Linked DNA regions of Homo sapiens. The protein of the gene in region 1 purifies or fractionates together with the protein of each later gene. This does not show direct contact. Each region holds a gene or a part of one and is shown on either strand. Other genes may lie near its edges. The genes, in order: ZNF501 and MRRF.

Region 1 (2,802 bases):
GTCATCAGAGAAGTCATTCTGGAGATAAACCTTTTAAGTGTAATGAATGTGGGAAAGCCTTTAATCAGAGTGCATGTCTCATGCAGCATCAGAGAATTCATTCAGGAGAGAAGCCCTACACATGCACTGAATGTGGTAAAGCCTTCACTCAGAACTCTTCCCTTGTTGAACATGAAAGGACTCACACTGGAGAGAAACTTTATAAGTGTAGTGAGTGTGAAAAAACTTTCCGCAAACAAGCACACCTTAGTGAGCATTACAGAATTCATACTGGAGAAAAACCTTATGAGTGTGTTGGATGTGGGAAATCCTTTAGGCACAGTTCAGCACTTCTTCGACATCAGAGGCTTCATGCTGGAGAGTAAAATTTGGAATATAATGAGTATGGGAAGATTTGTATGGAAGCACCTTTTTTTTCTCCTAAATTCCTAGGAATGTAAGACTCAATCTGTAGCTAGTATGAATATTTTGTATTTTGAACAAGAAATGTTGTGTCCTAATGTGTCCTAGTCTGGAGTTTGATGCCTTATCTGCTGCTCAGTGGGTGTAACCTTATCCCTTCTGAGCCTCAGTTTCCCCATTCCCCCCAATAGAAAAATGGGGATATTTCCTAGGGTTGTCCTGAGAATAAAATGAGTTCTGTGTGACAGTTAACTGCCATTAATTAATTAGCCGTTCTAAAAGTTTATTTACAATATCAAAATCTGACAAGTAAATCAGCATTGTTGTTTGGTTCTCATAATGTATTGTTTCTTAAGAACATTTTGTAATTGGGCTATGATTTTATGATCTACAGACGTCTATTTAAACTATAATGTCTTGGTTTAAATAGGATAATACAATCTAAGACTGGTTTGTCCTTGAGAAATTTCAGATTTAATCAGAGAAAAATGTACTGATTGGGATTTGAGTGGACATTGTGGGGTGTATTTCTGGATACCCTCAAGATCTTCATTTAAATTTTGATACTTTCTATTACTAGATCTAATTTGATTTTAAGCTCTAAGTTTCACTTTTCCATTAAACGGAAAGCCTCCCTGACATTAACTGAATAAAACCTCATGTTGTGGGACTTCTGTGTGTGTTTAGGGTTGGCAGCAGGTGATTAGGAGAAGGCATATGACAGTAGAGAGGACTGGAATATAGAGGAGAATATAAGCATGTAGATGAGGATGTGGCTGTATTTGTTTTGAGTTCTAGGAGCACAGCACCAAATGTGGTCTCTTAAGGGAAGATGAGGGTAGAAGATGTTAAGATCCCAGGTTCCAGCAACTGATGCCACTGACTAACAACTAGCCACTTGTCAGAGGAAGGAGAGAACAGTGTCTTGGGGATGCTGATGGGTTGGAGTGCCTAATGGCTCATTAAAAGCCATGAAAAAGCAAAGAAATCAAAGAATACTTTTGATGGAGCTTTAGGCTATGCTAAGCCTTTTAATGTAAACAAGCACCTCTAACGCTAAAAGCACCCTTGCAAGAAAGGTAGGAGTTACTATTCACATCCTAGAGTCAAGGAAAAAGAGAAGATGTTTGACTTGCTCAAAGTCAAGCAGGTAATGTCAGAATTGAATCTCAAATCTATATCTTTATAGATTTGCAGTTCTGGTTTATATAATACCAAAGTCACATACAGGTAATTTCCCACCATTGAACCTTCCTGTTGGTGTGAGATGCCAAATCTGTGAAAACCAGACACAGGTGGCCAGGTGGGTGTCGAACTCCTGACCTCAAGTGATCCGCCTGCCTCAGCCTCCCAAAGTGCTGGGATTACAGGTGTGAGTCACCACATCTGGTCGGATTTTAACTATTCTAATAGGTATGTAGTGGTATTAATTGTTTTAATCTGCAGTTCACCAATAATATATGAATTTAGCATCTTTTCATATGTTTGCCATCTGTATAGCTTTGGTGAGGTATCTGTTAGAGGTTTTGCCCATTTTTAATTGGATTGCTCATTTTCTTATTGTTGAATTTTAAGTGTTCCTTGTATATTTTGTATAACAGACCTTTATCAGATAGGTCTTTTGCAAATATTTTCCTCCCAGGCTGTGGCTTATTTTCTCAATCCTTGATTCCTTCTCTTTACTTTTTTTTTCTTTTTTCTTTTTTTAAAGAAATGGTAGCATAATATACACAGTTGTCCATTTTTTAAAGACTAAACCATCTCACAGATTGTTCTGTATCAGTAAATAAAGATCTTTCCCCCACCCTTGCCCAGTGTGTCATTGTCTTAATAGACCATTATTAGTTCCCTATTGGTGGACACTTAATGGCTTTTATTTTTCTGTTGTAAGCAAAACTGCATATACAGCATCCTTGTCTTTAGGCACATGTGCAAGATATTTATAAGGTAATTCTCAGGCTGGGCACAGTGGCTCATGCCTGTAATCCCAGCACTTTGGGAGGCCGAGGTGGGTGGATCATTTGAGGTCAGGAGTTCGAGACCAGCCTGGTCAACATAGTGAAACCCCACCTCTACTAAAAATACAAAAATAATTAGCCAGCATGATGGAGGGCACCTGTAGTCCCAGCTACTCAGGAGGCCGAGGCAGGAGAAATTGCTTGAACCTGGGAGATGAAGGTTGCAATGAGCTGAGATTGCACCACTGCACTCCAGCCTGGGCGACAGAGCAAGACTACGTCTTAAAAAAAAAAAAAAGAAGAAGAAGAAGTATGTGCCTTGGTAGCTTTGATAGAGAGTGTGACCTCCCAGATGTTTAGTTAATCCACTAACAATGGATGAGAGGTGTGCTCAGTAAAGCAAATAAACAATTGCTCAACAATTCTTTGGTACCAAAAAATT
Region 2 (3,827 bases), on another chromosome or scaffold:
TGCATTGAAACCACTCAGTGAAACTTTGCGGTTAGACAAAGAGTGATCATAAAAGCTTGTATCCTCAAAAGCCACTTTGAGGCTTTCTTTTGCCCTAATAGACGGTCATTTTTCATGATGTGCATTTGAAATGATATGTTCCCTATTTTGGGGGTACAAATTTTGATATGTATGCAGGAAATGTAGCTTATAGAGTATGTTGTTTAGGTTTTCCATTATTTTTTGACCCTTTGATGAGTCTTGGACTGAAAGTGGTGTGTTTCAGACCCCTGCTATTAACATTTCTGTTCCTTCTTGCATTTTCTGCTTTATGAAAATGGATTCTGCTTTGTGAAAGTACTGCTGTGTTGTTTTATACATAGCGCTCCAGACGCTTACATCTTCTTTATTTCATTCAGTGCTCTTAGTCTGAATTTTATCTTGTTGTATATCAGGATTACAGCTCTTGCTTGCTTTTTGTTTACATTTGCTTTCCCCATTTCTTGATTTTTAAGCTTTCAGAATCACTATTTTAGGTGTTTCTTTTTTTTTTTGGAATTGGGTTTTGTTCGATGAACCATTCTGAAACTCCTTTTTTCTTATTTTTATTTTTAATTGTAAAATATACATAAAATTTACTCTCTTAACCATGTTTTTTTTTTAGACAGGGTCTTGCTCTGTCACTCAGGCTGGATTTCAGTGGCATGATCTCAGCTCACTGTAGCCTTGACAACCTGGGCTGAAGCAATCCTCCCACCTCAGCCTCCTGAGTAGCTGGGATTACAGCCACGTGCACCGCCACACCTGGCTAACTTTTAAAATTATTTGTAGAGACAAGGTCTTGGCTATGTTGCCCAGGCTGATCTCAAACTCCTGAGCTCAGGTGATTCTCCTACCTTGGCCTCCCAAAGTGCTGGGATTACAGGCTTGAGCTTCTGTGCCCAGCCTTAACCATTTTAAGTGTACAGTTCAGTAGCATTTAGTACATTTACATTGTTGTACAACCATCCTCCAGAACTCTTTACCATGCAGAACTGACGCTCTATACCCATTACACAACCCCAGTTCCCCCTTCTCAGCCCCCAGCAACCACCATTTATGAATTTATAAATTTGATTAGGAACATCATGTTAAGTGGAATCATACAGGATTTGTCTTTTTGTGACTAGTTTATTTCACTGAAGCATGATGTCCTTAAAGTATATCCATATTGTAGCATGTATCAGAATTTCCTTTCTAAGGCTGAGTAATCTGTTGTATATATGAATAAGTATATATAAAGCTCCTTTTAACAGACACTTAAATTCATTTACATTTATTTATAATAGTGATATGTTTAGTAGAACCCATTTACTTTTTCTTTATTTTCAGTATTAACATAAGTGATTTGGTGTTTTAGCCCTAAGCAGATAAAGGATTAGAGATTAGAATGAGGAAGAGGGTTGCTTCACATAGACGAAGTTCAGTTTTTGTGGAATAAACAAATAAGTGATTATCTCTGTCTGCCTCTTTGTCTCTCTCTCTCTCTCTTTTTTTTTTAATAAGAGATGAGGGGTCTCCCTATGTTGCCCAGGCTGGACTTGAACTCCTGGGTTCAAGTGATCCTGGAACTGCAGATATGCACAGCTGTGCCCGAAGATCCCTTTCTCTTACATTCCTTTCTTCTGGTCTGTGTTTCAGTCCATCCTACGCTGTTAAGTTAGAACAACCTGAAACAGCTTTTATCATGTCACTCTTCTCTCAGAAACCTTCATTGGTTCCCTGTTGCCTGCTGAATTATGTAAACTCTTCACCCTGGCATTCAGTAACTTCTGCAATCTGGGCCTGATGTATTCCTTTAATTGTGATGCATCTCTTACAACTACCCTGATACCACCAGTGCTTAAGCGAAACGGAATTATTAGCTTTTCTGAAAGCTAATAATTTTGTGCTGCTTTCTCTCACCTTCAAGCCTTTTCTTAGGCTATTTTCTTTGCCTAGTGTATGCTCCCTTAAACCACTTCCCCACCAGCAGGCAAAACTTACCTAGTCTTATAAGCCCTTCTTGGTCCCATGTTCTTCCTTACACTAACTCATTCATTCATTATCCATCCCGATGCTTCTCCTGATTCATTCATTCATTATCCATACCGATGCCTCTCCTGATCCCTAAACCTGCCTATGCCTATTAAGCGCTTGGATTTGCCTCAAGCATCTGACGTTCAGCTACCCACCTGCGTTTCCTCTCTCAGGAAAAGCCTCACCATCCACCCAGGTGCCAAGCCAGGACACTGGGAGCCACTTTTGCCTCCCTGTCCCTCTCCCCTCATCCAATAAGTCACCAAGTCCTGTCAATTCTCCCTTCAACAGACCTTTCCTTTCCTTCCTGGGCACACCCTTGAGTGGTGCTCACCAGGGAACAGATGTGGCAAATGTTCCAGGCTGGCCTCACCCGGGTCTCTAGACACTTGGCTCAGAGGCAGAACATGGCTAACCCTAGATAAGCCTTGTGTGAATTCCTGGCAAGAAAGTCCCCTGCTGTCTTAGTCTGTGCATTCTCTGACTAGCACAGTATGTGGCGAGAGCAGGTGTTGAGGAAATGTTTGTCTAATTCTAAGGGGCCTGCCAGGCCTTGATACAAATGGCGTCACATTTACATGAATAACCCAGAGTTTCTCTAATTATCCTCACCTGCCTGCCCAGGACCTTCAACCTCATCTGCTAAGTCGGCCTCAGGCGTTTCTAGACATCTTAAGGGACCGCATGGCATCCAAGGCCACTGGCATCTACTGTACTCCCCTCCCACCGGCGCTTCCCTTTGCTAGCATCTGCAGCCACAAGTGACACTTAAGGGAGATTTACCTCCACTACTGGGAGTGTTAGTGTCTGTGACAAAAGTGCTGGTTGCTGGGCTGAGGGGGTCTGAGCATGCTGGGTGGAAGCCCTGAAGAGGAAGGGAGAAGGTCTCTGCCCACATCCCACATTTGCCGTGCATCCCTGAGTTCCAAAGCAGCCTCGCTAGGCTCTAGAGCCCCTAAATCTCCAAAGACAGCAGCTCCTCCGCGAGCTAGCTGCCCCTGACCGAGGCTCACAGCTTGCCTAGGGGAGGGCAGGGCAAAAGTCCCTGCTATTCTCTTCCTTTCCTGGCTCAGGCCTTGATCCAAATAGCTCCCTTCTTCCAAGACACTACTCCCCAGGCCTCCTCTTCCTGATAATAATAGTGGCTAACAAGTTTTACTAGATTTTAGGCAACTCAAGGAGCTAGCTGTTATTTTGTTCATTCTACAAGTGAGGAAGGAAGCACAGACAGTGGTTAAGTTACATGTCCAGAGACACACAGAGGGCCTAGTGCAGTAGCTCATGCCTGGAATCTCAGCACTTTGGGTGGCTGAGGTGGGCGAGTCACTTGAGGTCAGGAGTTCGGGACCAGCCTGGCCAACGTGGTGAAACCCCATCTCTACTAAAAATAAAAAATTTAGCCAGGTGTGGTGGCGGGCGCCTGTAATCCCAGCTACTTCGGAGGCTGAAGCAGGAGAATCACTTGAACCCAGGAGGCAGAGGTTGCAGTGAGCCAAGATTGCACCACTGCACTGCAGCATGGGCAACAGAGCGAGACTCTGTCTCCACACAGAGGAACACTTGGCATCAGGGAGTCTGTTGTCTGACCCGCAACTAGGCAGCCTCATACATTATTTTCACTAAGAGACCAGTGGGGCTGGAAAGGGACTTGTGAGGTGCTAAGTAGCCAGTGAGAGCTTCTGGGTCCTGTCGCAGTTTTGCCCTTTCTTCCCTCAAAAAAAGGTCTCTCCACTTCTCTGTGGGAAAGGCTTGGGCAAGTTCTCTGGTTTCCAATGAGGCCAGAGAACCTG

Evidence for each region.
Region 2: the proteins of ZNF501 (region 1) and MRRF purify together in Homo sapiens (affinity purification with mass spectrometry; one large-scale study listed by BioGRID and IntAct). This does not show direct contact.

What each region holds. Positions count from the first base shown.
Region 1 is NC_000003.12:44,734,873-44,737,674, forward strand, and holds the end of ZNF501 (zinc finger protein 501), read left to right. Parts: coding exon 1-365; 3' UTR 366-2,211; downstream 2,212-2,802. UniProt on the Homo sapiens protein: May be involved in transcriptional regulation. Essential for Golgi structural integrity.
Region 2 is NC_000009.12:122,327,348-122,331,174, forward strand, and holds part of MRRF (ribosome-recycling factor, mitochondrial isoform 1 precursor), read left to right. Parts: 3' UTR 1-3,827. UniProt on the Homo sapiens protein: Responsible for the disassembly of ribosomes from messenger RNA at the termination of mitochondrial protein biosynthesis. Acts in collaboration with GFM2. Promotes mitochondrial ribosome recycling by dissolution of intersubunit contacts.